Regions from separate parts of the Homo sapiens genome. Here region 1 is linked to region 2. The links come from fine-mapping of genetic effects on gene expression. A gene starts in region 2. The other region holds a variant in brackets. All regions are shown on one strand. Distances are from middle to middle.

Evidence for each region. PIP is the estimated chance that this variant, and not a neighbour inherited with it, causes the effect.
Region 1: its variant is fine-mapped to the expression of STIMATE in whole blood (TOPMed, PIP 0.91).

Annotation. Positions count from the first base shown.
Region 1 is chr3:52,838,626-52,854,097 of GRCh38, reverse strand. STIMATE-MUSTN1 (STIMATE-MUSTN1 readthrough) reads left to right here. Exons shown (of 10, transcript NM_001198974.3): 3 at 1,400-1,495; 4 at 4,185-4,306; 5 at 9,157-9,269; 6 at 10,300-10,377; 7 at 11,138-11,287; 8 at 13,488-13,598. It overlaps STIMATE (STIM activating enhancer), which reads left to right. Exons shown (of 8, transcript NM_198563.5): 3 at 1,400-1,495; 4 at 4,185-4,306; 5 at 9,157-9,269; 6 at 10,300-10,377; 7 at 11,138-11,287; 8 at 13,488-15,472. The coding sequence ends at 13,604. MIR8064 (microRNA 8064) reads left to right here and starts at 7,546; the gene lies at 7,546-7,635. RefSeq lists enhancers at 9,113-9,613, 13,794-14,295. The variant C/T (reference allele first, on the strand shown) is at 3,773.
Region 2 is chr3:52,890,485-52,905,956 of GRCh38, reverse strand. STIMATE (STIM activating enhancer) reads left to right here and starts at 8,409. Exons shown (of 8, transcript NM_198563.5): 1 at 8,409-8,666. The coding sequence starts at 8,507. It overlaps STIMATE-MUSTN1 (STIMATE-MUSTN1 readthrough), which reads left to right and starts at 8,409. Exons shown (of 10, transcript NM_001198974.3): 1 at 8,409-8,666. The coding sequence starts at 8,507. SFMBT1 (Scm like with four mbt domains 1) reads left to right here. Exons shown (of 21, transcript NM_016329.4): 21 at 681-2,385. The coding sequence ends at 821. RefSeq lists a silencer at 8,147-8,856.

The sequences.
Region 1 (15,472 bases), 52 kb after region 2:
ACCAAATACATATATTTCTTAAATAGACTTTGATATATACATCAAGCATATATTTATTTCACAGATTATGATCCTGCAGTCACAATTTTTCCTTCGTGAAATGGTGGTAAAGCTTCAGAAGTAGGTTCTAAAGACAAAACTCCAAAATAATACATCACTTGGAAGGATACAGTCAGCTCTTCAAGACAGCACTGTGTCCACAAGAAGCTGCCTGTTTTAGGCTGCCTTGGGCTTCTACATTTCCTAACAAAATAGCCATTTTATCCTTCAGAGGAAACGTCAGTAATCACTGTGATAAAATTATTAAGCGTGTACTTGTTCTTAAACGTGTTGCTGGCGAATTTGATAATTCTTTTTATTTTCCCCCCGTTGATTTTTCTCAAACCCTGTTAACTTTAGAATGTGTGACTCCCACCTCAGGGCTGGGGCAGGACCTGGTGGGAGACCTAGCTTTGGGGCTCTCTTGAGTCTTACATACGTTGTCCTTTGGTAACTCCTCCTTTGCAGTGAGTCTAGGGAATGATTTTCCAGCCACCGTCGCTGGGTTGGTCTGGATAATCTCTGCAGTCCTGAGACCCTGCCCAGCTGGGCGGCTGTGAGAGACAGCCATGACCAAGAGGTGCCTCGACCACAGAGGAGAATGGCTACCTGGTGCTGGTGGTGGAGGACATACTGAAGGCACACGCTGTCTCCACCATGCTCCTGTCACATGGGTCGGGGTTAGCTCCTCTCAGAGATTAACACCCTTGTTTTTTCTTTTTTGAAATGCTTACCATCTAGTCCAGGGGCTGGCACACTACAGCCCTCAGGCCCGGTGTGTATGATTGGAATAGCTGTGTCTATGACTGCATCATTCTCTAGCGGCAGGGCTGAGGAATTGAGACAGAGATCATATGGCGCACAAAACCTCAAATATTTATTCTTTGGTCCTTTACAGAAAAAATTTGCCTACCCTGATCTAGCCCATTGTTTAAATGGCAGCAGCTGAAATTTCTTTAGGGATCCAGCTGCAGTACTGGATTTGTGCACGTCTTGTTAATTTCACACATAATTTAGCTCATTGTGAGTGAAGTTGAATGGGAGCTCTTTAAAATAGAGGCACCTTGGGCTTCATCACAAAGCAGCGATTGAGCATTTTATTTTGAAGTAAGAAAAAAATTTAAAACGTATTTTAAATATCAATCCTTGACCTTTTAGGGTTTTCAAAGGCAGTGTTATTGAAGGCTTTGAAAGGTGGCTGAGATGCCAAGCCTGAGTTAGTGCTCAAGGCCCCAGGAAGAGATAACCAGTGATTGGAAGGTTGGGGTGGCTTTCTTCCTGTTTCAGTCTTCTCGTTTTCCTCAAATTGGATATTGCGCTCCTGTCAGGCTAATAACCAGTGCTGGTTTATTTTGTACAGGTTTTTAGACACTTCCAAACAAGCCATAGGAATGCTGTTCATCCACTTTGCAAATGTATACCTAGCAGATCTCACTGAAGAGGACCCTTGTTCACTGTAAGTGTTCCCTATTTGAGTGCAAACATCAGCTGCCCCTCCATTGAAAATATAGGCTGGCCTTGCTTTCTGCTGCTGGTCCTGCTCCCTCTGGCTTGGGGAGAGGGTGCTCCCCTTTTCCTCTGTGCTCCTCTGAGAGACCATCCTGTACATGCTGTCCTGGAGCTCACTTACACAGCTATCAGTTGGCTTGTAGGGCTTTGCGTGTTGACACTTTCCCCATGCACTGGCTTTCTGTTCATCAATCCAAGTTCTGTCCTTTGATTTTCTAGTGTCCTTATGTCTCCCAGTTTCCAAGCCGCCCCTGGCAAGGAAGGATAATGCCCTACAGGAGTGTCTCTGCTCTGGAACCAGGACACACCAGGGCTTCTCTGTGGCGTCAGCCATTCAGGGTCAAAACTGTTGTTGACCCTCATTGACCTCTTCCACCTTATCATTGCAATGTGCCTTCCATGCAGCCCCCAGAGCAATCCATCTGTGACCTCAATCCGGCCATGATATTCTGTCCTCCTTGCTGATGGCACCCACATAGTGCTTCTCTTAGCAGGTGGAGTGGCAGAGGAGGCTTGCCTACCTCATCCTGGCCCCATCTTCTGCCTCCCTTTGTCCTCATAGCAGCCTGCCATATATTAATGGAGACTTTGATCATCCCCATTTTACAGTGGTGGAACTGAGGCACAGAGAGGTTATATATACTGTAAGTTCACACCGCTCAGGAGTCATGGAGCCCAGCCAGTCTGGCTTCCAGGGCCCACATGATGCTTTGCTGTCTGTCAGAATCATCTGTGTTGAGGATGGAACATAGAACTTTCTCTCTTTATTCCCAAGGCATGGCACACAGTAGGCTTGTAAATGTTTGCTAAGTGAATGAATGAAAGTAAGGTCTGTATGTACATCACATGTCCTTGTTCTCGCAGGCGTGAGATGCTTTGGACACAAAGTATCTGAGAGCAGCATAGCCTCAGGCCAGAGGGAAATTGCCTTGGAAGCAGTTGCTGCTCCTGCCATCTCTGGTCTAAGAGTGACCCCTTGTGATTTTACAGAGGAAGGGCAGGCAGGAGAAATGCCCCCTCCCTCTTTTCACTGGTTTTCCTGCTGACCTACCCTAGCACAGGCTGCGCCCTCTGGCATCAGAGTGCTGTGTGCACATCACCAAAGCTCCAGCCCAGGATAGGAGGCTGTGAGACTACACAAAATGTCTCAAGCCTCAGCAACTGGAAAGCTCACCACACCTGGAGTGTGTGGTGTCCTGCAGCTTACCTGCAAGGATTTCAGAGCCACATGGTATCGTAGAGGGTCAGTACTGGACCCAGTGCCCTTGTCTCCCACTCTGTCTACCATGGAGAGCTGGAGCTTGTGGTCAGCAGTGCTCAGCTGGATCTGGGTACAAGGCCCTCAAGAGAGGGTGAGTGGAAAAGGGCCTTTCTTTGGTGAGAGAAAAAATTTTGTGTCGGATGGAAACAGACCGTACAAGAACACAGTTCATGTGGTATGCCCTTCAGAGCCTCCTCCTCTCACTCCCCCAGTTATCTTGCCTTTTCCCATGGGGAGTAAAGCTCGCTCTTTAAAGTGTAGGCCGGGCACGGTGGCTCAGGCCTGTAATCCCAACACTTTGGGAGGCCAGGGTGGGCATATCCCTTGAGGCCGGGAGTTCAAGATCAGCCTGGCCAACATGATGAAACCCTGTCTCTACTAAAAATACAAAAATTAGCTGTGTGTGGTGGTGGGTGCCTGTAATCCCAGCTACTTGGGAGGCTGAGGCAGGAGAATCACTTGAACCCAGGAGGCGGAAGCTGCAGTGAGCTGATTGCACCGCTGCACTCCAGCATGGGCAATAGAGGGAGACTCCATCTCAAAAAAAGAAAAAAACAGTGTAAAAATATTACTTATGCTTGACTGCAGATGGGGATGGGCGAAGGCCATGTTGCCCTGTCCTCTTTGTCTGCGAAACCCGAGAGGCTGTTTTCCTGAACCTCTCTGGTGCAGCAGCACTGTTCTGGGCCTCCTGGGCTGGACTGTCAGGGAGTGAGCAGAATCATTGCCTAGGTGTTTCTGTCATCAGTTAAGTTCTGTTTCCTGTTGATTTCCCTGGCTGCTTCCAGGTACTCTGTCTTCCATTGAACCTTCGCCTGGCAGAAGCACTGGCAGGTTTTTGTTTTGTTTTGTTTTTTTGAGACAGAGTCTTGCTGTGTCACCACGCTGGAGTGCAGTGGTGCAATCTCAGCTCACTGCAACCTCCACCTCCCGGGTTCAAGTGATTCCCCTGCCTCAGCCCCC[C/T]GAGTAGCTGGGACTACAGGTGCGCGCCACCACGCCCAGCTAATTTTTTTGTATTTTCAGTAGAGACAGGTTTCACCGTGTTAGCCAGGGTGGTGTCTATCTCCTGACCTCGTGATCCACCCGCCTCGGCCTCCCAAAGTGCTGGGATTAGAGGCGTGAGCCACCGCGCGCAGCCAGCACTGGCAGTTTTAAAGTGTCTTTGTCCCTCACTCACCTCCCTCAGGTGGTCGCACTCCTGATGAGCTTCAGCACATGGTAGTGACAGCTACACTGGCACATGAGGGCTCCCAGCCCCCAGAATGGGCCCAAACAAATGCTGGGTCCATCCGCTTCCCTCAGGCCACCCTGCATCAGCCATGACCTCTGGCCCCGTGGCTTCTGCCGTGACCATGCATGTGCCCTGTCCTCACAGGTACCTCATCAACTTCCTCCTGGACGCCACTGTGGGCATGCTGCTCATCTACGTGGGGGTGCGCGCCGTCAGCGTCCTGGTAGAGTGGCAGCAGTGGGAGTCCCTGCGCTTCGGCGAATATGGTAATATGCTGTGGATGCCGGACAGGGCGTGAGGGAACTGCTGGAGGTCTCTGCTCCTTGCCCCATGCGGCCCACCAGGCAAACAGATCCAGAAATGGCTGGGGAGCTGCCATTGTCTTCTCTGTGTGGTAGAGGGGGCTGTTCTGGGTTTGAGCACACCCTCCTGTGGGTGTGGGTGCCTGCTTTACCACCAAGGCCCTCACCTTATGGCAGGGAAGGTGGCAGGAGGCAGGAGACACTAGACACAGAGAGAGGGCTGAATGTCTGCTCCTTCTAATGGAAGACACCAGCAGTCCCACACACAGGCCCGCAGGGACTCTTCGTTCTGCCAAGCTTCCTGTAGAGCTCACATCACCTGCCTACCAGGTTAAAGAGATGGGGCAGCTCTCATTTTTCGAAGGTGTTCAATAACGAGGTGGCAAGCCCTGCCCCTCTTTCTGCTGCACATCTGTGCTTGTCCTGTTGCTAGGCCATTCCACACGGCTGGTACTGGAGGGCACCTTCCTCAGGCCCTCACTGCCCTCTGAGGTTTCAGGACAGAGTTAGGGGTAACATCAGCTCTCTCCCACCCTCACAGCTGGCCCCAGGTGTCTGCAGACAGAAGCTCCTCTTCCAGGTGGATCAGTATCAGTGGAGCCTTTGCCTTGAGAGGGCCACAGAGGACAAGAGGGAGGGAGAGCGGATGGAATTCGGGATCCCCACTCTCCTGTCCTGGTCATGCCTCCCAAAGAGCTCATGGCTGTGGGCTCAAGGGCCACTCACTTCTAGATGGCTGAAGATTCACAAGGCACTGACAGTTTAAAAGGGGAGCCAATTCATGGAGCTGGCTATGAGTACCTTGGATATTTCCAGAAATGTTAAGTAATTGTTTGTCTCCGTTGAGGGGAGATGAGCTCAGGGCAGGGCTTTTCTTAGCCCCGTACTTGATGCCTGATGAGTCACTGACTTAAGATAGTGTCCAACACACAGCTTGTGCCTCCTATGGCTCCAGGGAAGGCTTCTGAGAAGCTGCGAGTCATTGAGTCCTCAGCTGCAGAACAGAAATGGACCACAGTCGGGGGACCAGCACAGCATCATCGTCATTTATAGAATGGGCACCCAAAGGAGTTAAGTGACGCGCAAAGCTCACCCAGCCAGTGCATGGCTATGGGAGCCTGGGCCTGCTGCACCAGGATACCTAAACCCTCCCACCACCCCCACAAACAGTGCTCACAACTACTTTGCAGTTGAGATCCCTTCTAGAAGGTGTGGCTCCCAGCTCTACTATAGCTGACCAGTGCTAAGGTGAATCCACTGGTCACCACTAGTCTGTCAGGTGCCACTCAGTGACCTGGGAGTGAAGATCAGGTCTGGTTCGGATACATCAAGCATTAACGCTACCAGCTGTTCCCTCACATTTTGTCTTCATCCCCAAGGGTGGATGGAAAGGAAGAAGGCAGTGATATTGTTTCAGCCTCTTTCTCAATCTCTTGGCCTGCCTCAGCCCCTGCCCCTGGGTCATCCCACCACTGCCTTTGGGAGCCAGAGTCTTCAAGCCAGAATGTCTCCAAATAAAGCTGTGGGGACCATCCTGAGTCTTCCCCAGGCTGAGGAAGGATAGCTTGTCTGCTCAGTTACCTGTTGTTTTCTATTTCCATCAATTTCTGTTGTTTTCTATTGCTACTGTAACAGATTTCCACAAACTTCATGGCACAAATTGAAACAACACAAGTTGATTATCTTTTTTTGTTCAGAAGTCTGTCATGGGTCTCACTGGGCTAAAGTCCCAGTGTCAATGGGGCTGGCTTCTGGAGCCTCTGGGAAGATTGTTTTCTCGCCCTTTCCAGCCTCTAGAGTCTGCCTGTAAGCCTTGGCTCGCGGCCCCTCCTTCCGTCGTCCAAGCCAACAAGAGTCGCTGGGTTTATCCCACATCGAGTTGCCCTGACTTCCTGCAGCCTTCTACTTTAAAGTGTCCTTGTGATTACATTGGCCCCACCTGGACACTCAGAACACTCTCCCTGTCTTAAAGTCAGCTGACTAGCAGCCTTAATTCCATTTGCAGCCTCAATTCCCCTTTGCTATGTGATGCTACACACTCACAGGTTCCAGGGATTTGGATGTAGGCAACTGTGTGGGGCTGTTATTCCACCTCCCACACCTGTTATCCTGCCCATCCATTTGAGGAAGAGGTACCACAGCTCTCTTCTCATGTAAATGAAGAAGAGGGGCTTATTTTTCTAGGATGTGTCTTTTGTTCCTAGAAGAGAAGGCCAAGAGTTTGCTGATGAGAATGCGGGACTCAGGGAAATAAGCCACACAGCCCCGGCGGTTGAGACCAGATCCAGGTGACGCATGGTGTCTGCACTCTGATTACCAGGCCACTCTTTCCCATGTGGAAGCCCTGACATCTGGGTCACGGTGCTTCATGGGTCTTGCTGCCCATCCCTGGCCAAACTCTCCCTTTTGAAAGCCTCTCGCCACAGATGTGTTCCCTCCTTTTGGCCCCTATTGCTGTGACTTCTACTGAGGAAATAATTAAACCCAAACAAAACACCCACATGCCTGAGGTTGTTCATTGCAGTAAAAAGCAAGACACACAAGGTCCAGGTGCAGTGGCTCACACCTGTCATTCCCAGCACTTTGGGAGGCTTAAGCGGGGAGGATCGCTTGAGCCCAGGAGCTTAAGACCAGCCTTGGAAACAAAGCAAGATCCCGTCTCTACAAAAAAAAAAATTTTTTTTAATTAGCCAGGCACATGACATGCATTCTTAGTCCCAGGTACTTGGGAGGCTGAGGCAGGAGGATCACTCAAGCCTAGGAGTTTGAGGATACAATAAGCCGTGTTCATGCCCCTGCACTCTAGTCTGAATGACAGAGTGAGACCCCATCTCTAAGAAAACAATAACAGCAATGACAAAGCAGGACATGCAACACTGCCTGGCATGTCTGTCCTTTAAAGAGGAGACTGTGGGGGACATCTGAAAGACTCGCAAGTGAAACAGGAATCAGGAAACACAGCAGCCACGTGTGCTTCTCCCAACGGTGGCTGCGTGAGATCTGGGTTCCCAGAGGAAATGGTGTGCCAGACGGGGTCACAGGTGCTTTTTCTCTTTTCTCACGTTTCTGAACTTTCTTATTTTAGCATCTAAAGAGGCAGCTGTAGCTAAGTTGTGTAGCAGAAACCTAGAACACTGGGGCAATGTGAGGCGTATGGGAGGAAAAGCATTTTCCTCCTTGTCAGTCACTTAAAACTGAAGAGCAGATGGAGTGAGCACACTGAGCGAGCGGACATCCTTCCATAGTAAATAAGCGGTGCCGCGCGCTCCGCTGGCTCCCAAACACTCCAGTCCTCACAGAGAGATTTCCTAGTGGCGCTTTCTGTCCAACTGTCCTCAAACCTACTTAATTACTTAATGGTTTCTCACAAATAAGTTCATCTGTTGTTTTGAGAACTGTTCTCGATAAGGTTAGGTGACTTACCGAAAGGAAAAGGATTGCAAAACTCATTAACAACCTAGCAAGGAGGGATTATGCTTATGAAATGGGTTTTTTGGCTCAAATGTCTCCTATCCCTTAAGTGAAAGTAGAAAGGAAGACCTCAGAAGAGGCGACTGATGTGTTTCTGCCACACTTCTCCCAGGGTTTTCCAGAAAAGGGAATGGCCTGGTGTTTTGTCCATTGCAGCTGCATAAAGTCATTCCCTTGTGTACAGCTGACAGGCTTGGGCAGGGCATGGGCCTCCAGCATGGGTGCCCAAACAGGGATTGCTGCAGAAACAATAAAGCCAAGTGAGAAGCTGGAGATATCTCTTTGGACCAAATTATCTTCTCATAGCCTGGATTACGGCCTTTACCCCCCAGCCTCCCGCCCCCCCGCCACCCCCAAAATGCTACCCTGTACCCCCTCTTCTGGCCAGCTGTGGTAAGGCAGCTCTGGCAGAACTTCCAGGGTGAGCCCCAGGCAACCTTCCCACATCCCACTCTCCCCTGGGTCTCCCACTTTGGGGAGGCCTATGTGGCTCCCAGGAGCCACCCTAGGGTTCTTCATATCACAGGATCATTCCCTGGAGGGGCTGGTCTTCTCTCCGTTCAAAATGTCCTGGAGGCATTCCAAGGCCTGCACATCCTCCAGCTTGTACTACTAGGTCCCTCGGTTTCTCAAGCATGGTGACTGAAGGGGTCCCAGATGGACCTTTGTCACAGCCCTGGGCCCCGGCCCATCCCTCCCACCTCCTTGCCCCAAGGACTTCTCTCTTCACTTCCTTGTCCCTGGCCAAGGTGTTTGGGGTGACCCATGCTGGACAGGTAGAGTCCAAATTCCTCCAGAGTCACGTTTCTGCTCTCAAGAGGCTGAGGTATCAGGGATGGCCCGGGGAGTTGGGTAAGGGATGGGAGGTGGGGAGGTGGGAGACAAACAAAGCGACTGGGTCCTGCTTCATCATCCACAAACATCAGTCCACTCATGGACAGAGAAGGGAGGGGCAGCCCCGCTGTCACTGGAAAAATCAACAACGGATAAGAATAGCAGTCTTGCTTCATACAGCTTCTGCTGCCAGCCGGCAGAAAGAACAGCTTTTCTGAGCTCCAGCAATGAGCACTTCCTAACTTTAGTGCTTTTTAATCCTATCTTAGAATCTCTTAAAAGAAAGGCCATTTTAGTATCTTCAAATAAGGAATTCTCTGATTTTATTTAAAATACTGCATTTGTCTGTTAAGGATGAGGTAATCCTTTGGACTTTTGGGGGGGCTCATTAAGTACCTTTAGAGCTTTAGAGCCAGTGTTCTGGGGTGCGTGTGGGGGAGTGGGGTGGGGACATCATCTCACTCAGATGCCTGGGCCCCATGTGACTAAGCACCCGCCTGTCCCTGCAGGAGACCCTCTGCAGTGTGGAGCCTGGGTCGGGCAGTGCGCTCTTTACATCGTGATCATGATTTTTGAAAAGTCTGTCGTCTTCATCGTCCTCCTAATACTTCAGTGGAAAAAGGTTTGCTTCGTCCCTGCATGAGCAGCTCCTTGCCACGCTGAGCAAGCAGCACTTCCTCCCCATCACCCACATACGCCAACTCTAGGAAAACCAAACTTGTTTTAACTCTATGAATGTGTCCTGCATTTGGTCTGATGTGGCAACTACTCCAAAGAGCTTGTCAATTCTTAGCATCCATCCACTTTAAATGTCTGTTCTAGATGAAGCCTTGGGATGTATAAAACTAATGAAATACAGTCCCTGCCCTCGGCTTGCTACCATCTGATGGTGGTTTTTAGGCCTTGCGACAATACATGTTTCTACATCGGCAAACATCCTGTCACACACCTCTCTTGGCTGGTAGTTTAACTGAGCCATGTGGTGCCACGGGCAGCTTCCACAGTCTGTGACCTTCAGTGTGCCGATGCCCTGGCCAGCCCACGGGCTCCCCAACCGTGGCTTCCGCCCTCTGACCCCAGTTCTGTGTAGATAAACCCCCACTCCTCATCCCCGAATGCCCACATGAGACCAGCCAGAAGCTTTGAGAACAAGTGGCTCAGCTTGGCCTCCTTTGGGTTTTATTTGTGTTTGGATTTTATTTAAGAAAATAAGCCAAGGCTTTTCAGTGCTGTTGTCTTTTAGGGGTGGTTGAGGTGTGGGATTTCTGTTAGAAAGTGGTCTGGGGCCTCATTGCTGGTGTCTATAATGAGCATCCACTGTGTTCACCCCTCCAGCCCCCTGAAGCCCACACTCCACTCTCCCGGTGGGCACTGCTTGCCTTGCCCTGGCTTGGTGGCTGTAAGCCCACTGCACTTTGCAAGTCCACACTGAGGGGAAAGCTGCCAAAGCACCAGATGCTTAATGTGGTCTCCAAGGGTTCCTTGTGGACAGTCTCATCTGGGAACCCTAGGCATGAGGTGCTGCTCCCATTGGGCTTTGGAGGAAGCGTCTTAAGCTAAGGCTCCCTCAGGGCCTATGGGTACCACCCACCCACCCCAGGCACACTCTCGGTGGCCTCTCCCTACCTCACTGAGTCTGCTTCTCTTTACAGGTGGCCCTGTTGAATCCCATTGAAAACCCAGACTTGAAGCTGGCCATCGTCATGCTGATCGTCCCCTTCTTTGTCAACGTCAGTGCCATGTTGCATTTTTATCCCGATTTGCTCCCTGTCTGGCAGGGTTCCTGTCCAAAGTTCTGAGTCTGACAGAAAGCTCACCTGTAGCCCTCAGGTCTTTTTGCGTGACCATTTGCCACCTCTCCCACCCCCAGACCTGGAAATGGCAGGATTACCCCCTCAAAAGGCAGGGCCCCATACCAGGGCTCCCGTCCAGGATGGAGGGGCCTGGGAGCTTTGTCTTGTCCTCCCTGCCGAGGGGCCTCCCACCAAGAAGCCCCACCCATGTGTAGCGCCAGCCTCTAGTTCAGGATTGTTCCAAACGTACCCATCGTTCATTCCTGACCACGGATCTTGAGAAACTCCCGAGCACAATGGCTCGAAGTTAAGAAACAGAAGTGGTGAGGGAAGCTGGGACAAACAGATGACAGCAGGGTGTGCCGGCCACCCACATGGAGTCTGTGGGGAGGGGCCTGGAACGCGTGTCCAGAGACCTTGCTTCCAGGCCCCAAACAGGCTGTTCCCCCTAGTTACCACAACAAAAACCCGTCAGGGCACGTTCCTTGCACACTCTGATCAGAAAACTGAACCCGAGGATGTGGAGACTGGGAATCTCTTTCTAAGCTTTGGGAGAGAGCAGGGTGATTGGATTGGGTTTTTCTTTCCATAGCTCTGGATCTTATAACCTGGAATGGGAGTGGGCGGATGGGGGCTGTTCGGCTTTGCTTTGAAAAATGGTTTATCCCAAAGTAACCTGCACTTTTCCTTCCCACAGGCTTTGATGTTTTGGGTAGTGGACAATTTCCTCATGAGAAAGGGGAAGACGAAAGCTAAGCTAGAAGAAAGGGGAGCCAACCAGGACTCGAGGAATGGGAGCAAGGTCCGCTACCGGAGGGCCGCATCCCACGAGGAGTCTGAGTCTGAGGTAGGGCCTCCCTGACTCTCCAAGGGCCCAAGCCGTCGTATCGCTGGCCCAAGGGGGTCTCTGGTCTCATGTCTGTGTATGTTCTTCCCTTGAGTGCAGAGTCACAGTGCGAGCCAGAGGGCAGGAGAAGAGGCTGAGCCAGAGATGAGCGAGGGGCAGACAGCTCTGTCCAGCCAGGACCCATTCCCACTGTCCCTTGGGCCTGCCTAGGGCAGGAGGGCAGAGCAGATGGGAGTGGCTTGCCTGCGACAGTTCCTCTGTCAGTGGAGATGACAGACAGGAGAGGGAAGTTCTGCCTTGTTTGGTGAGCTGGCAAGGACCGTCATGGGCCTAATGGTTGATCTTCAAGCATTAGGATATTTGAATCTCTGCCCAACACTAAAGAGCAAGGGAAGTGTTGGCTCAGACAGCTGGAAACTTCTAAAATATAGGGGTAGCCAGACCTTGCAGGAGGAAACTCATCCCCCCCTTATTTTCTGGTCTTCTGAGTTCAAGGGTTTGGACCTCAGGGAAGAACGGTGGCCATGAATAGCAGCCCTGAGGCCAGGATATGTGTTCTGGCGGCCCCGCAGCACTCACCCCACATCTGCGTGCAGGGCCAGCTCGTGGGAGGCATGGGAGGCCTAGGAAGTGTGCAGGTGGGAGCTGCAGAAAAGCTGAGACAAACGTCTTCCCCGGAGAGGCTGTCAGACACGTGGGTGAGGTGCAGGTGGACACATAAGTATTTCGTCATGACACCGTAATATGTTCTAAGATTGAGGCATAGGCAGAACCCAACGAGGGCCCTGGGACAGCCTGGAGGGAGTTTCAGAAGACGAATAGATAGTAGGACAGAGGGGAAGCCGTGTCTTCTCTAGGTGCTTGTCTCTAGAATCTGGCCAGCACCTGTCATATGAGAGCTTGGTGAACATTAGGTGAGTGGCAAACAGTGTTATGGGCAGAAGCAGCAGCTCATGAGCATTCACAGTCACATGGTTTGGTGTCTGGGCCATAGTGTGAAATGCACTGTGGCTTGTATTCTGGAGCATAGGACAGAAGGACAAGAAGTGAGGCACAGGCTGAGCTAGATCGGCAATGCCCTGTGATCCAGGCTGAGGCATTGGGATGTGCTCGTACAGGCGGTGAGGAGCAGTGGGAGTGTGGTGGTCGGGACCGAGACTAGAGGCAGGAAGCCCCGCAAGGGAACAGTGCAGGGAAGAGGAGGTGAGACTGCCTGCCCTGCCCTAGAATAGGAGTTCGTGTTTCCCTGCATAGGTGGGCTTTGGACCTCCTGATCCCAACCTAGGTGGTTCCAACCTTTCCCTGGTATTCAGAGGTCTAAGGAGCCAGGCAGGCGGGCAGCGGATGAGTGTGTTTGCCCCAGCTGCATGGCTGAGTCATTCCAGGGCCTTAGAACAGCAAAGTGCCGCTGTTTGTCTTCAGCAGTTACAGAGTTGGCTCAGAGCAGCCACGCTGAACTCCCCCTGCCCACAGATGCTTTCTCTTCCTTTTGAAAGGGGCTTTTCAGTCTGCCTCTGCAGTATTTAAGGCAGCTTCAACAACTGCATGTGTCATGGTTGAGCTTTTTTTAGCCAGGGTGACCTTAGGCTGCAGATCCCTGCTGAGTTTGTCCTGATGGAGGTCGGTTCCCCTGGAGGTGGACTGAGAAGTGGGGAGCATTAGCAGAGGAAGGGGGTCTGTCGACTCAGTGCTGGCTTCAGTAGCCCATGAGTGTCCTTGGAGTGAACATGGCCTGTGGAGGCTAGCACGTCTCATTGAGTACAGGGAGCTTCCCCTCACTCTCTTGTAAAGAAACATTAAGACTTGGCAAGGCATGGTGGCTCACGCCTGTAATCCCAGCACTTTGGGAGTCCGAAGCAGGTGGATTACTTGAGGTCAGCAGTTTGAGACAAGCCTGGCCAACATGGTGAAACCTCATGTCTACTAAAAGTAGCAAAAAAAAACAACGAACCAGGCATGGTGCCACGCACCTGTAATCAGCTACTCAGGAGACTGAGGCAGGAGAATCACTCGAACCCAGGAGGCAGAGGTTGCAGTGAGGCGAGATCGTGCCATTGCACTCTAGCCTGGGTGACAGGGTGAGACTCTGTCCAAAAAAAAAAAAAAAAAACATGAGACTTGAAGGGCCCAGGGTCCAGGGAGGGCAAATGAAGAAGGCCCTGCTGGGGGTGACTCAGGCCCTGCCTCTCTACTGCCTCAGATCCTGATCTCAGCGGATGATGAGATGGAGGAGTCCGACGTGGAGGAGGACCTCCGCAGACTGACCCCCCTCAAGCCTGTGAAGAAAAAGAAGCACCGCTTTGGGCTACCCGTATGACACATTCCCATGCTGGGGGTGACGGGAGGGCCCCGCCAGCCGCTGGTGTGCAGAGGTCATCCCGCAGCATCGTTCCTTACCCTCTCTCTGCCCTTCCTTTCTACCTCTGCTCCTCTTGCTGTCTCTGCCCGCTCTCGCCTGCCCCCAGACTACTGTGACTTAAAAAGAGGGAAGAGGAGCCAGCGCCCGAGGGGGCCACTGGCGGCTGGAGGTCCCCATTCAGTTGCACTACAAACACTGACCAAATATGCAAGGAAGGAGCTGTGTTTGTTTGTTGTCGTCCCAGACAGTGTTGTGAGGGACCTGAGGCCCTGCCCCGTGTCCGACCACCGAGTGGCAAGGTGGAAGGAAGCACAGGCACACAGACCGTGGGTGGGTCTCCTCACCGTGGCTGTGGGCAGTGCGAACACATAACACCCTCGGGCTAAAAGTGACTCGTTGACCAAGTTGGAACCGGAATGCTTTCTTACTCAAAATGGCTTTTGTAACTATTGATTTCTGAAGCTGGTTTTATGAGTTGTGACAGTGTTACCAGGTTGGGGGTATGTGTTTATTTCCTACAAAGTACTTACGGGACTAATGGGCAAAACAGAGATTTTTAAGTCTTCCGTATGCTGTTTGACTTTTATATTTTTAAGTTATATTTTCATACTATTGTATTTAAAAACTCTTTTTAGTCCCCAAAGAAATGGGTTTATTTGCCTTTCATGGGGTGTGGGCTGGCAGGAGGAAAAATCGGGAGTTTTTTATTTGGAATATTATTAGATGATGCCCTATGATAAGATGAGACAAATGATGGGGAGGGAAGGAGGATGGCCCTTCTCTAGAATCAGCAAACCCAATGGTTCTGTGAAGGTCAGACCCAAGCTTGGAGCAGCTGGTCTGGATGCAGATCCAGGAGCTGCAGAGTGTGGAACAGGAAAGGCTCTGCCCAGGGCCCATGAGCTCTAGCATTCCTGCTGGCAGATTAGAGATCTTAGTTAAATTTGACCAAGAAAGGAGCTTAGCTAAGAGGTCTTTGTTTCCAGAGGACCCAAGACTACCAGACTCCTGTGCAGTCTGCCTGTCTGCAGAGCCTCCAATCACGGTTTAAAGTGGTCTTGGCCTCCCAGCCCCCACTGCTGCAGCCTTCAGAGCCAGCCTCTGGACTCAGCGCCAGGAGCCTCCTCTCCTGCTGCCCTGGTACCTGTCATCCTAGTGTCACCTATTTGTTTTGCACAGCATTCTGGAGAACATGTGCCTCACAAAGTGATCCTGTTTTTCTCACCCTCCAAAGCTGAGGTGGCTAAGGGAGGCAGGGGTGAGAGAGCTCACTCTCTAAACCACAGGCAGGGCAAGGTGCTTCTAGGCCGTGTCCCCTCCCTGGGGAATGGTCACTACTCCTCAGCATGGCCACAGGCCCCTGTGGTTTTGGGAGTTTGCTGAGTGACTGTGGAATGGGCTGACCCCAGCCGTTTCCCTGCTGTGGAAACAGCAAGGTAGGGGCACTGCTTGGTGGTTTGTCAAGCTCAGAGGCAGCCACGGATGGTTAGGAACAGGAAGCCACACTGCTAAGGTGTGATGAGCTAGAAGGGAGACATCCTGGACTTCAAGTGAGACAAGTGCAGAGGAGGCCACTCCACTTAGGACCTTCCTTTTAGACCTGCATGAGCACGTGTTTCACTTAAGCACATTGGGTCCGAATTGGGCGCATGAACCCAGCTGTTAAACCAGGTACCCTGGGACTGCCCTCTGCCTCTCAGAGCCCTACCTGTCCTGGACTTGAAGGCGAGCATCAGGCAGGCCTTCTCAGCCCATCTTCCACCAGGAGTGCAGAGCCAGGGTGCTGAGAGGAGCAGGGACTGTAACTACAGTAGGAGGCAACTTTG
Region 2 (15,472 bases):
AGTTATTTATCAGACTTGCTTCATAGTTGAAGGAGATTATCATTGCATTCCAGTTTTTCCTAAGAATTTGATTCCATCCCTCCAATATCAAGCATACCATGCTTAATTGTCCACATCTTTTCAAAAATAATGATTTGCTTGTTTAAAAAAAAATAGCATCTGTCACATTAGGCTCTAGAGTGGTGATAAGTTTTAAGGCAAGCTTGCTGAAACACAGTCAGTGGCCTTAAACATTGAAATAAGTTTTGTTTAGAAAATTAGGGAGATTCAAGAGCTTATCGGGTTTTTATGAATGTTACAGAGTAGGAAAACATTGAAGTTGATAGTTAATCCTTTGTTTCAGATTTAGAAGGAACCCTCTAAAAAGATGGCACAATTAGTTGCCAGTTACAGGGCTAGTCAGTTTACTAAATTTCTATGGGACAGAGACTCTGGAATGGATTCTTATCCTTGGTAAAACTTTATTGTCCTCAGTAAAACTTTATTAATTCTGAAGCTTCATTAGTGTGGAAGACTATGGAGTCACTTAAAAGGAAGTGTGTGATACCTAAGACGAAAAAGTAAGGAAAGGAAAGCATAGGGATTCCAGTTTTGACAGAGCTAAAGTGAGGAGAGGCTGTCATGATCAAGCTGCCTTTCATGTGCACATCACAGATAATTTGTCTTTTATGCTTTAACAGGAAATTGATGGGCAGGCCCTGTTGCTCCTTACCCTTCCCACTGTTCAAGAATGCATGGACTTAAAATTGGGCCCTGCCATCAAACTTTGCCATCACATAGAGAGGATCAAGTTTGCTTTTTATGAGCAGTTTGCCAACTGAGAAGGACAACCAAAGTGAGCTGGATCTTTGAAGCACAAATGCAGCAAATCCTTCACCCTGCTTTATAAGTGGAGCTGGAATAGTCCTGGGGCTCTGGGGCCTGCAGGTATCAGCTTGCTCTCTTTGCACTTTCGGGGAAGGAGGACTCACAGTGAGGAAGCAAAAACTGTGCACAGAAGTGGATCACCTGCTGGTGGAAATGTGGACATCTCTTGTTCAGCAGATGGCAGTTTTTAAAAAATAAAGGTTGTGAGGAAAAGACTTATATAAGAAGAAAAGCATTTCCAGTGGTGTGGCCTGAAAACAAAGAATAACCTAGGCTGCTGGAAAGCACCCTTTTGGTTGTTTTCATTCTGTTCCCTCCCATTGTAGATTGAACTTTGTTCTCTGCTTTCTTTTTCTTGGAAAGAGAGGACTTAGCTTTAAGTCAGCACTGATTTGGGACTGTTCCTAAGGCATATCAGTGCTTCATTGTCATTGTGTTTTTAAACTTTTTAAAATTAAAACAGTTCATTTTGGGGATGATTATGTGGCTCTAGGGTTTTGAATGTATAGTCACACTTTGATCATTTTAAAATCGATTCTTAGGAGTTCCTTTGTTTACTACCTCTGTTGATAATTGAGCTTACAGCCATGTATGAGGTTTTTTGTATGATGCCATTTTTAAGCTACATAAACACTAAAATTATGACAGAATTTGGAGGGGGGGAAACTGTTTGCTTTCTTAAAAACATTATATGGGGCACTTACACCAGTTCCTTAACTGACCTGATCTGAGAACTCTACTGTTACTGTTCTCCATCTTGACCCAGCCGAGGCTGCCTGTGTTAAGTAACATCACCAAGACTGTTAGTATTTCTGTTTAATTGCCCTCTTCCTATTCATTCTCAGAGGGACTTCAGTGACTTTTATTTTGTGTTTACTTTTCTCTAGAGTTGTTTGTCTACCTCTGTTTCATTTCTAAGGTCTTTACTTTGGGTGAAAATCAGTAAGTGTTCCATGGACCCACAGCGAAGCCCATTTGTCCTTCTTTCCAGGTGTCTCCAGTGTAGAAGCACAGCACAGAAAACATGTTTTGGAGGGTAACGCAGAGCATGGAGTTTCTGTTAGCAGTGTCCTCAGTGGCAGGATAAATACTGAGATGTGGTTAAGGATTCTGGAAACCTCTTTGCCTAGCCACACTTAGACTTTTTTCAGCTAATCCTTTAAATTGAATATAATCTTTAGTCCGAGGATTCCCATTTAAACAACTCAGTATTCTTTTAAGTGTGTCTTTTAGCCCAGCTCAAGTTAACATGAAACTCCAGGTGAATTTTCACTTACTATTCCATTGCTAGCTATTATAGAATAATAGCGTTTGCTGCACTATTCTAGTCATGAGGAGTGAGGAAAAACATACATAGGTTGTCTCCCTTAAATGGTTTGCTTTGCTGAATTTTTTTTATCCTAATCACCTGCAAATTTATAACCCAATCATTCTTCCTCAAGATTTGAAAATGTTTTAATCCTGCAAACTGGGTGAATTCTAAACAGCTCTACAAATATAAGGAAATATTACAGCAAATTTTAACTGATTGTGATTTTTTTTTCCCATTCCCCACCACCCCAACCTATTTTTGTGGACATTGATGAATAATCTGGAGCCTCTCTTCATTGGGTAATTCATAAACCAACTTAACTCAAGCCCTGCAACTAAATCATACATTAAATCATTAACTCTTCACTTAGGTTCCTACCAGATCTATCTGGGAAGAAGCTTCATTTAAGTAAAAATTAGTATGTTTGAAACTTAGAGATCCAGTTTTTAAAAATTTAAATCTGTGTCTGTGGAAGACAAGGATATATAGGGAATGCTAGGGAATAATTAGCATTAAACATTAAGCTTTTGGTGGGTAGTGGTGGTAATCTTGCTTAATGAAATTTCCTGAGAGTTCAGTCAAGGTACTAAGGAAAAGAGGGCCCCTTGAGGAAGAATAATGGAACAGAATTTCTGGAATTAATGTTTAGGGCCTCGTGTTATTATCTTATTTAGGAAAGTGAAATATATTTCCTATAAGAGGGAATTTACCAAACACAAGAACAATGAATGCTTTATTTTGTCTCTCTTTTGACTTCTCCAGAAACCACAGAATTAAGAATCATCTCCCTTCACAGGTGAGGGGATGAAGGCGCTGAAGGGCAAAACATACAGCCCTACGTAGTCTCTGATCTAGGTAGAGTCAGAGCCCAACAGGCTTGTTTATACCATGATTATTCAGGCTCAGCCCGTTCCTAGAGAAAGGCTGACTCTAAATGGTCAAGTAAGTTGAGTTTCCCTTAATATTTCTTGCATTCTCCTATTAAGGCATAGTTTATTAGGCAATTGCATAAAGAATTATATCCCCCAGCGCCGACTCCCGTATATTATGTAAGCAAGGATAATTGGGAATTTAGCACAGGGCACTTTTTTAACTTAAAGTTTGGACTTAATTTACCTCACAAAGCTGCTGGGACTGGGCTAGATAACAATGATGTTCTGGTTACTGTGATGCTGAAACAGATTTCAAGCCAGATAATAGCTCACCATGTTGGGGTAAAATGTTGGTATGTTGCACACAGGTGCAAGAACTTTGTTTTTTAGAGAGACCAACTTCTTAAATGTGTAACAGTCACATTGTGAAGGGACTGCATTTGTCTGGATTTCACCTGCAGCTGGGCCCACAGCCTGCCTGAGGTCAGAAAATTTTTCATGACCCATTTTTTACCCTGAATTGACAAGTTTAGAAAACAGGTTAATGGACTACTTCATCCTCCTGGACCTTGAAAAGCTGGCTGACCAATATTAGACTACTACTGCTCAATTAGTGTGCTAGGGAAACCTTTTTGCTGCACATGCAGATTTTTCTGTGACATTTTGACTAGATTTTGAGGGCTTCTGGGGACTATGCTGTTTTCCTTTGTACACCATCTTCATCCTTCTCATTTGAAGCAGAGTTGAAGTGGCTAATGCAGGGAATGCATTTATGGAAGCTTGCACGCTATCTGCCTTTGTTCAGCAATGCAGGTGGCTCCTAGCATTTATCTATGTTATAGATATGTGAGGTCAGGGAAGGGTACTTACTAACCTCTGGAAAAGATGAGCTTCTTGATAAATATTTATTGACTTATGGTAGAAGCAAACATAGAAAACTAGTTCAGAACTTAGCCTTAATATGCCTTTTCTCCTGGAAGTAAAATATTCTCACTGTGAGAGAGAAGACATTGGACCTTAGCTTCCAGAGGACCTGGATACACTTTACTTGCTCTCTAGTACCAATTCAGTCACGAATGTGGTACCTGAATACAATTTAAAAGCTTTAGGAGGCCTTAGGTAGGGTGGGACTCAGAATCATTTCCCTCTCTCAAGCCAAAAAGTGTTTCTGAGGGACACATAGAATATCAGGCAATCTAGATGGGAACATTTGGGAAAACTATCACAGGCAATTATATTTACTTGGCACCTATATCACCAAAGATTGTTCTATTTGAGACACCATTTACTGGTTTAATTGATCAACAGTGGAACACACCCTGGATTTGAACTCTGATCCTGTATATTGAGGATGTGCCGTGTGTGCACACACCAGTTCAGAAGTGTTCTGTGTTATCAGTAGGAAATCTGTTGGTCTTATGAAGTTAAATGAGTAGAAGGCATCACTACAAAAAATGAAGTACAAATCTTGGTGGGGACCAGATGCCCCCTTTGCAAGCTTGGATTTCCTTGCTCCTGGGTCCACTGTAAGCAACCATATGTTTGTCATGGTGCTGACTCAGAAATCGTAGGACAGAGAGCCTCCTGCAAAACCAAAAAGAAATGTTACTTTCCTGCGATTATAATTCTTCCTTGACTTTGTTCACTTTAGATGTTTTACTAGTGAGTTTTGATGACTCCCACCCCTTATGTGAGAATGTGCATACTTTGGAAACTTGAATTTATCCAAACAAGCTACCTATGACTTAGAGTTTGGGCATAAGTTTTAAATTCAATGCTCAGTCGAACTGGATCTGGTTCCAGGCCCACTCCAAGGGTGGTTTCAGGGGTGTTTTTTCAGTACTTGTCCCAGACCACACAGGTAGCCTTGTTTCTGAGGGCAGCTTTATGGGGAGGTGTAGAAGGTGGTGGGCAGCAAATGCACTGCAGAGTCATTTTCTTGGGTATGGTGTTTAAGAAGCCTGAGATTTTCACAAGAACCAGCAAAACCAGGAGTGGAGAGTTGGGGAGATAGAGAAGTAGGCCTAAAACTCCCTCTTCTTGAGTCTTTTTTGACTTAATACACCATTGGGTCTGTCCTGGTGCTATGGCCTATCACAAAGGACTGTTTTAAGAGAGAAGCAAGCCACAGCCTTGCCAGATAAGTCTCCAACACCAGCAGAAAAGCACGGACCCTGATCTGTGGGAGGCAAGGGTCTCCCATTATTTCTGGAGGCAAATGGTGCCTTCTAGTGAAATGGTGCCACCATTTGCTGATGGGGGTGCCTGTTCTCAGGATGTGTGGAAACTCAGGCCTGAGGGTTTCTACATGGTTTATTCAATCTAACTGCATACCTAGCTTGGCAGAATGGAGGTGGACAAAAGTGCTGAAAGGATGAGGGTAGGCTTTTAGGGCAAATCAAGTCACAAAGCAGATGATTGAGGGAGGTTACAAAGCTTAGGCAGAGTTAAAGTTGGGCAGTCCATTAGCTCCTTTTGCAAGAATCTCTGGAGACGGTAGTTTGAATGTTTCCCTTGAGATTTCAAGTGCTCATTTCTTTTCCCCTCCCTTCCTTTCTTCCTTTTTTTTTTTTTTTTTTTTTTCATTGAATATTCTCTGAAGACAATCAGAGGCCTGCCAGGGAGGGACTCCTGGCTGGTTCCAGCACTGTCCTTAGGCCTCTTTTTAATACTAACTTGTTGGAACTGATGCACTTTGTTTAATGTATTTTACCTTTTTTTTTTAAAGCTGCTCATTTAGAACAAAATCAAATGCTTATTGCATTGTATCCTTCCTGCTTGCTGTTTTTCCTCTTAATTTCAAAAGTTATGCATTAAAGATAAAAGTACACTTAAGAAGTATGCACAAGAATACCTATTAAAATAACTACCATCAAGTTTGATGGTATAACTTCAAAGGATTAAAAAAAACTATTTTGGATTAATATTTTGCGTGTTTTTTTTGTAAATATGATTGTATATAAACTGGTGGTACGTTATGACAGTTTTAAGTGGTTGTGAGAAAACTAAAGAGAACAGGTCTTAAGCTATGTTTAACCTTAACTTTGTGCTGATTTGACAACAAGGAAGGCATTTTGGCCAGAGTAAATTTTTTAAAACTCTTTCCAGCGGGACCTCAGAGAATCATTTCCAAATAGATGAGAAGTTCCTTCCTACTTTAATAAAACTCCGGAATTCTTCCCCCTCTCTTGCTGTCTCATCCTTTACCTTCTGGATTTAGGTGCTTTTTAATTCCAGTTCAGGAAAGATAGGAAGAGTAGAATTTCCCCACAGCAACCTTGCTCCTGACATTGGGGATTCCGCCCCTGATCTCTGAAGACTGCTTCTTGTTTGTTCCTCTGTGAGCCTTAAGGATTCCTCCACAGCTGGATGTGCAGAACAATTCTTTGTCAAAAACATCACTTTTCAGCTCTATGTCCAATTTTCCTTGAGCTGTCTGTGTCTTCAAGCAATCAATAGTCTCCTTATGCCCAACCACAATCTATTCTGCTTTAAGACGTAGCCTCTTGTTTGGTTCTCTCTAAACATGTACTGTTAACTGTTGAGCATCCTCATAAGATCCCTCTTAGACTAAAAGACAGTCATGCAATTTTAATTTTCCCTTATCCATTTATTTTTTTAATCTGATTTTCTGTATTTGCCCACGGCCAGTACTTGTGGAGAGTTTAAAATTTTATAAATTAAAATTCCATTTAAATTAAGCATTTTGTCGCATGTTCTCTGTACCAGGCACCATACTGAATTTGAATTGAAGGGTAAATAAAAATAATTCCTGCCCTCAGGAGGCTCACACTTAGCTGTGGGAGAGAGACATGTGTACAGCTGTCAAATTTAGCAGTCTGAAAAGTTTTGGTGGAACAGTACACACTAGGTAATGTGGGAGCAAGAGGGAGAGGGAGGTCAGAAAGGCTTTGACACATGAGGAGCAGTTCATGGAGCAGGGAAAAGGGAATGGCATCCATGCAGCTAGAATGCTACATAAAGGCACAGAGGTGTGAAAATGTAAGAGAAGGCTGGAGAATTGCATTTTTATTCTCTAATCAGGTTAATATTCCTGTTCACCAAGAAAGCTTTTAGCTAGCATATAACCCTCTTAGGTAATTGGAATTTGGGGGGCTATTTAATAGGAAACTTTTTCCTAGAGATGATATTTACCGTTGAAAACACGTAGCTCAGTATCAACTGGACTTACACCATATGTTCACTGACATTCTGCAGCAGGAAGGTCAGCGGCTCTAGAGCACCAACAAGAAGGTATCCAGAGAGAGCCCAGATTGGGCTGGGAGAATGGGTGAGTGTCAACTGGACTTACACCATGTGTTCACTGACATTCTGCAGCAGGAAGGTCAGCGGCTCTAGAGCACCAACAAGAAGGTATCCAGAGAGAGCCCAGATTGGGCTGGGAGAATGGGTGAGTGTCAACTGGACTTACACCATGTGTTCACTGACATTCTGCAGCAGGAAGGTCAGCGGCTCTAGAGCACCAACAAGAAGGTATCCAGAGAGAGCCCAGATTGGGCTGGGAGAATGGGTGAGAGAATGGGGACTCAGGGTCTTGTTAAAGGCAGAGCACAGGTTCTGAGAAGTTGGAAAGGGTTAGATGGGAGTGTGTGTGTGCAGGGGGATGTTGGAGCCTGGAAAATACCAACCATTTGTCTTTTACACTCTAAAGGTAGTTGTGCTCCCCAAGTGAATAAGGTGGGACATGTGCACGTCAGGTTTTCAGTGTGAAACCTGGTATATTTCCAAATGAAAGTGATTGGATTCAGGTGACCATTTAAATTATGTCTATGAAAAAAGAAAATAGACTTGGGGCCTTGATAAGCCTTTAGCTAGGGAAGTAGGAAAAAGACTCAAATGTCTGGGTTGGAGGGAAGACTCCTGTACTCAGTCTCAGATTGTTTTCCTTATTCACTTGCTTCAGAATAATCCAGGCTGCAAACTATTGGGACCCACCCCAGAACTACTGAATCACGATCTCTGAGGGTGGAATTCAGGAATGATGATAATTTCTCCAGGATATAGGGATTTTCCTTAGAGGGAAAAATAATTTGACCACAGGCCGTCCCAGCTCCTACCTCCGGACCTGGAGCTCGTGATTCCCAGGCTCTCATTCCGGTCTGCGGTGGCCGGCTCACCTGGCCTGTCTACCTGCGGGCGTGGCGGGGTTGGAGAGGGGAGCGGGACCCGCGACCCCGCCCCGTGGCCCGGCCGGAGCCCCGCCCCTCGGGGGCGGGTGGGGAGAGCTGCCGCGGCCGAGGCCCGCCCCAACCTTGGCTGCGCCAATCAGGCACTGCGATCTCAGACGTCGGGTTACGCGCGGCGCGGAGTCGGCGGCCGGGCGGAGGTACCGGCTCAGGCTTGGGATCCCGGCTGCGGGTTTGGCGGCGCTGCGCCGGCAGGCAGCGAGGCCGGGCGGGCCCTGGGCCCTCGCGCCCCTCCCGCGAGGCCTGTCATGCAGGGCCCCGCCGGGAACGCGAGCCGGGGACTGCCAGGCGGGCCGCCCTCCACAGTCGCGTCCGGGGCGGGCCGCTGCGAGAGCGGCGCGCTCATGCACAGCTTCGGCATCTTCCTGCAGGGGCTGCTCGGCGTCGTGGCCTTCAGCACGTTAATGCGTGAGTCTGGGACCCCCCGACCCTCCGGAGGCCCTGCGCGGCAGCCGCGGCCCGGCCCCCCTGGGGGCCCCTCCTGCGCGGAGAGTTCAGGCCTTGGGACCCGAATTGCTCCTCCCCCGCAAACCCAGGCTGGGTATTCCTGCACTAGGGGTAGCCCGAGCCCCTCACCTACTCGCTGTGGCCTCCAGACAGGAGTGACCCTTCCCCTTTCCACCTTAAACGTCTGTCTTTTGAGACGCCAGTCTAAAACTCGCCTACCTCCCACCTTACCATCTCGAATTGTTACCCCACTTCCCAGCCTGGAATCATGACCCCCAAGGGTGACATCCCCTTGTCCGCCCCTTCTCAGGGGCTCTTCGTGCTTAGAACCCACATCCCTCAATCCCCAGTGCGATGCTGAGCTCTTTTCTGCCCCTTCACTCTTCAAGGATCTGCCTTCTCCGTTCACATTTAAATCCTGCTACTTTGCATCCCTCTCAACACCTGGAGTGTTAGGGCCATGCCTTCCGTTTCCCAGTACCCGCCTCCCTCTCCGTGGCCCTTCTTCCTCAGCTTTAGTTTCCCTTTTGTCAGGGTAGGACCCACCCAGTCTGCCTTCTTCCCCAGATCCCCTTCCTCTCGTTTCTTCCGGAACAGGCCCACCTGTTCCATCTCTGTCCCAAGCTTTCCTAATAAGCCGCATCTATAGCTTCCCCTGGCTGTTCCCTTTCCACTTTTATTCTTTATATTTTAAGTTTCCTTTTCCATTAAACTTGGGCACCTTAGTGGCTGAATAGAGAAGGAAGCCCCCACCCTGTTCTCATGTGTGCTGATGGGGGGTGGGGGGGGGCTTCTGTTTTTCATCGTGTGCATCCTTCCCTTATTAAAGTAACAAGAAGTTTTGCTCGACATGTAAGCCTAGGAGTGCCCTTGTGACTGCGTTTTAGGGGGAAGGAAAGGTTATAACTATCTGTGCAGAGTCATTAATTCCAAAAATGACTTGTTCTCAAAACTTCCCCACTGTGCTTGTGTGGACAGAGTGGAGAGTTCCTGCAGAAAGTATGCTTTGGGGTACTCAGGAGGGATCTTGCAGCTGTGTGCCTTTGTCTTGTGGGGTCCAGTTGCTGGAGTGGCCACCTTGCTTGTTTATAACTTGGGGTTTCTTTGAGTGAATTCTCTCAGGCTTTAAGTAACCCTGAAGAGGCTCTGATCATGGATACCGCGTTCTTCTGGTGGCCTGTCCTTGATAAGTCTTATAAGTGCCCAACTGTCTATGTTTGCCACTTTTTCTTTCCTTTTTAGTCCCAACTTGCCTTGCTTTTTCTCTGCTAAACAAATACCCACTTGTTCCCACAGTAATAATTTGTGACAACTTAGCCAAAATCCGCTGCTGACTTGGGCGCATGTACTGTACGTGTGTGTTTTCAAGACATGGTGAGTGGATCTTCATACCCCTCCTACTTCTCTGTCCTCCAGACAGCCTTCCTTTCTCTCTGAAGGAAGTGTAGGTTAAATTTTTCTTTTGCTCCCTAACCTGAGGTTTCTTAGCCTAGCTCTGGCTGTTTCCATAGGTTTGATTGATGCTGATGGCCCGGCTTGTCCCCTAGGGTTTGACACTTGTGATTCAGAGAAGGAAATGTGATGATGACAGGGCAGAGTTGCTCACAGCTGAGAAGTGTATCGGGTTGAATGTGTTCTGAGTGGAGTCTTCAGGGACATATTCACTTCTTTACTTAATCTTCAGCGTGAGCACATGTGCAAATCCCACTGTGGTTGGTACTTTCTGTGTGCAGAGATTGAACTAGAAAGCAGTCTCTTGTTCACTGTGAGGCTTGACGTGGACGGAGCTTGTGGAAATGGCTGGTGGGTCCTGGGGTGATGTGGGTAGGAGTGATGGGGAGAAGAGCTGGAAAGGCTAGAGCTATGTCTGCCCTGACACAGAAATGGAGGTGAGAGCAAGAGCCTCCTCCCCCTACCTAGAAGCAGACAGAGCAGGCCAGGGCAATGGTACTCTGGGAGCTGGACAAGAAGAAGCCCACTGACTGGGATGCAGTCAGGGTGGGGCCCTTCTTATCTCTCAGATTTCTTGGTCCTGTTGAAATAGAACTGCGAGGCTTTTCCTTCTTGAACTACTGGGAAGAGGAAGAAATCTCTAAGGTGGAAGAGGAACGAGATCAAGGTAGCCTTAAGGAAGTACATCTGCGAGCCATTTGGCTTTGTCCTGGGCTATTAGTCCTCCGTCCTTCTCAGTCTGGCGGAGCTGCCAGGAGGGGCATCTGTTGAAGGCCAGGCTCCCCTGACGAGGGTCCCCCTCGCAGCCCTGAGGGAGGGAAGTCTTAGTGTGTGTTAAGGTGAGGCCACTCCATCCTTCCTCAGTTCTGTTATCTTCAAACATTTTAAATACCAACCAGTCTGTTCTGAGCAGTTTAAACAGCCGTTGTCCTTTGAGGGGCTGTTTTTGAGATCACAGTCTTTTCCCTTCTGAGTACCCGTGGCCCTCGAGGCAATGGGCTCACTGCCTGTCTTCTGGAACGCTTCCCCAGTCCTGATGGCCAACACTATTGTTTCCTGTTGGACCAGCTCTGACTGTAGAATGAACCCATTTCTCTGCAGACAAGCTGTGAGGTAGTTTTCCTTACTTCACCTCCCTGATTTCAGTGACCCCTCAGACCACTGTCTTTATGTTCCTTTTTCTATCCAGAAAAATCACTTTTTTCTCCACTTACACGTTGCCTTGTTTTTGTTTGTTTGTTTCTTTGTTTTTAATCTGGAGAGGTTTGTCCTGAAGGAAGATTACTTATATATATTAATGTCTCTGGGGAGGATTCTGGTTCTGCAAGAATTTCTCATTCTGGTGCTTTGATAGACTTCTTGCCTTACTATGTAGGGTTTATAGACCCTCTTGGTCCAGGCAGTTGAGAATGTATATGCCAGGTCATACATGGTAGCCCATTATTCAAGCTGCATAAACATGCAGACTGTTACAGGCACCACCCACACACATGTCCCAGTGTCAGCACTGCCTTGTTGAGTTGGCGGGCTTCCTAGAGGCTCCAGCTAAGGTACCCTGTGTACGCAAGGAAAGATGAACATACTCAGAGACAAGCTTATGAAGATACTTTCCACTTAGAGTTTTCTGAAGTGTCTGCTAGGTATCTGCATAGAAAGAAACGCTTTAAACGAGGGGGCTTTGCCAAGCAATTCCTCGTTTTGGTGGTTTTAAGCAATTCCTCGTTTTGGTGGTTTTGTCTATAGTCTGTGACTTGACAAAGTTGCTCAGCTAGGGTCTCAGCAGAACAGAGCTAAGCAGTCCTAGAGCTCAGCAAACTGTTCCAGTGCAGGGTAGCCAACCAGCTGTCAGCCAAAGGTCGTGTTGGCCAGTGTGTGTGTTGGCATTTGGGGGTGTTTGCTCTCAGGACATGTGAATGCAAAGCAAACTCAAGCCTCCCTCACCGTGCACAGTCAGGGTTCTGGGCTGAAGTGTAGACAGAATTGGTTTTTAATAAAACAAGCATTTTGAGAGCTTGGATAAATCTGCCTGCCTATTTTTGTTATAGACATGGGGCCTAGCCAGCTGGGAGAAATGTGTCCATGTTTTACAAAAACACTGCTAACATTGAGAAGTGATAACTTTTTTCCTGCAATCCAAAGTAAAAATCACAAACCAGTCCACTCAGCTTTGATATCTTAAATGAGAGTTTCTGGGGTTTTCTCCGTGGTAAACCGGCCTCCCTGTGTGCTCTGTGTGAACAGGCTTGTGTTGGCACAACCTTCCCTACGATCACCTCTCCCCACCCCATCCTGGTTTTTATCTCTAAAAATGTCAAACGTAGAAAACATGAAAAATAATACACTGAACATCTGTCTGCCCTCTACCTAGATTTAGCAGTTGTTCACATTTTGTCACATTTGCTTTACCTCTTTATGCTTTTTTTTTTTTGGCTGAGCCATTTGAAGGTAAATTGTGACCAGCATCACACTTTACTGCTAAATACTTCAGCTAAGTCTCCCCAAAATAAGGACAATCTCCCACATAACCACAATTTCATCATCATACTTAAGAGAATTAATAATAACTCCATGATATCATCTCATATCCAGTCCATAGTCACATTTCCCCAAATGTCACAAGTCTTTTATAGCTGGAGTTTTTAAAAGCTAAGATCCAATCAAGGTCCACACGTTGTGTCTGGTTACGTTTTCAGTCACTTTCGTTTCTAGAAGAACCTCCTCCTACACATACATGCACACTTTTTTTTTTTTTTCAATGTTTCTGGCTTTTTGAAGAGTTCTGGCTGCTTGTTGTGTGGAGTGCCCCACATTCTGGAGTTGTCTGGGTGTTTCCTTGTGGTGTTTGAATTGTTTCACTGGCCCCTGTTTTCCTGAGTTTGGTCTGGAGCAGTTATTAGATTCAGATACCCAGTTTTATGGCAAGAACACGCCATAAGCGGCGCTGTATGTTTCATGTACATTCCACCAGGAGGCATGTGACATCACGCTGCCCCACTATTAGTGTTAATAAGGTTGATGACTTGGTGATGGTGGATGGAAGACCTCTCAGTCTCTCCCTCGTAAAGGTACATCTTCCCCTGGGCAATTAATAAGGGATCTCTGCAGTGATAATACTTTGAGATCATGTGAATACTCTGTTTCCCAGTAGCCTTTCACCCAGTGATCACCTCCTCCTGGTAAAATAACAGAATACAGTGACAGCTGAATTGGAGCTGGAGCTCACGAGTGAAGGCGCCTGTCTTTGGGTCTGGAACCCAGCACAAACTCAATCAGTGTCGCTGTCCTTTCCTCCTTCTGGAGTGCCAGCATGGGCAAAGGAAGAACGCCCCTTTTTTCATGCCAAGCTGGTGTTGTGGCCAATGTTAGCATACTGGCTGGCTCAGAGCTTTCATTTTTAGAAAGTTTTCAGGTTTTCTAAATGTTTATTTATTTGGTAGCATTTATCCATAATGGCAATCTGCTGCTTGATTTATCATGTAACTTCATTAATTTCGAATAAAATCAGGACAACAGGAAGTTGTCTGAATTAGGGGACAATCTGAGTTGTAGAATAACTTACCAAATGCATTTTTTTTAAACTTTTGAATACCTCTGTTGGCCACATGTTGCCCTGTTGGGGCCTCTCATGCTTCTGCTGCTTTAATATCTGTTTAAAGTCTTTTGCAGTTAGTATATTTGCACAAACATGAAGATTTGTTGAAGGGGTTTTACAAGTGGTTAAAAATAACAGGATCCCTGGCTCTGGATCCAGCCTGACCCAGCATCCATGTCTGCTTCGCTCTGCCATGTGGTGCCCCTGAGCAACTTCTGCATTTCTCAAAGCTTCAGTTTTCTCCCCAGTAACATGTGGTAATAATCTGTCTTTTCTGGGGCTATGGAGATGAGAAAGAATGTGTTTGAGGAAGCTGGGTTGGTGTCAGGCACATGTTAGGCCCTCCTTGGGGGTGTGTCTTCATCCTTGTTATTACATTGTATTCATGAGTTGGGCTGAAAAATGTTTCACAAGTGCTTAAGTAACTTATTTTCTGAATTAGGTTAAACATTCCCCTTTCTTTCTTGTTTGTACAATGTCTTTACCTTTAGCCCTCTTCACAGAGTGCATGGCAGTGAAAAAAAAAAGAAAGAAAGAAAAGCACCTTTAGCCCAGCCAGCACAGTGAGTGTGAATCCAGATTAGCATGCGCCAAAACAAGGTGGCTTTCGTGGCCAAAATAATCTTCCTTGACCTAATCTTTCTTGTGTTTTTACCGGCAGGGCCCTCATGTGGGCTCTGAGAGAGAGGGCAGTGGGTGCCTGGGGCTGCCCCACTTCCAGGTGATGAACCTGCTTCAAGTCGCTGGCTTTTCTTTGCCCAGGGCCCATGGTAGTAGGTGGTGGCGCTGGCCCCTGGAGCCGGCCTCTTTTCTGCAGCCTACTCTTCACTGAGTTCCCAGCATGCCAACCCCCCTCACAGGAACCCTGTACAGAAGCGGTCGGTGAGCAGGTGAAGTGCCTTGTACAAGGGCTCCTGGTTAGTAAGTGCAGAACTGAAATGTAAGCCGGGTCCCTGGGACCCCAGACACCCTGAGCCACTTCCTCTGTGCCTGCCGGCTTTTTCCACCCCTCTTTCCACACAGGTTCACTTTCTGATTACTCCGTATCTGTGGCTACTTCACCTCATTTTTTTTCTATCTGAACAATTCTGATTTTCTTTCTTGATAATTATTTTTATTTAATTTTATTTAAAGCATTATTGTTTTTTGACTGTTGATAACATTAAAAATATAAATTTGAAATGACTCATCAATCATTTCATGCCTACATGAGTCACACGCTAGGTCTGCTTTTCTGGGCCTTTGTGAAGATTTTCCTTGCCTGGGCAGAGGGTGGTGATTCTACCCCAAGGCTGAGGTCTAGCATCTGAGGCGAAGGCACCCCCGCCCTACCCCAGAGCAGCAGAAGCAGGCAGCACGGAGTCCCTTTACTCGCTGGTGAGGAAGGGTCTGCAGGGCTCTGGGTGGCTTCAGGTTACCTGCTGAGTTTCACAGAGTTCATTTCCCTGTTGGTTGCCATATGACTATAAGGAAGGTCATTAATAATCTTGAGGTTTACCCAGAAGAATTATCCTTTTCCTTGTGTATGCATAGAAGCAGTTGGTGAGTCTCTTTTAGATTACTCCACTGCTAGGAAAGCTATCCATTGAATCCAGAGTTTTTCAGCCTGGCACTGTTGGTACTTTGGATGAGATAATTCTTTCTTGTGGGAGGCTCTCCTGTGCATTGCAAGGCATTTAACAGCATCCCCAGCCTGCCTCTACCCACTAAATGCCAGTAGAAT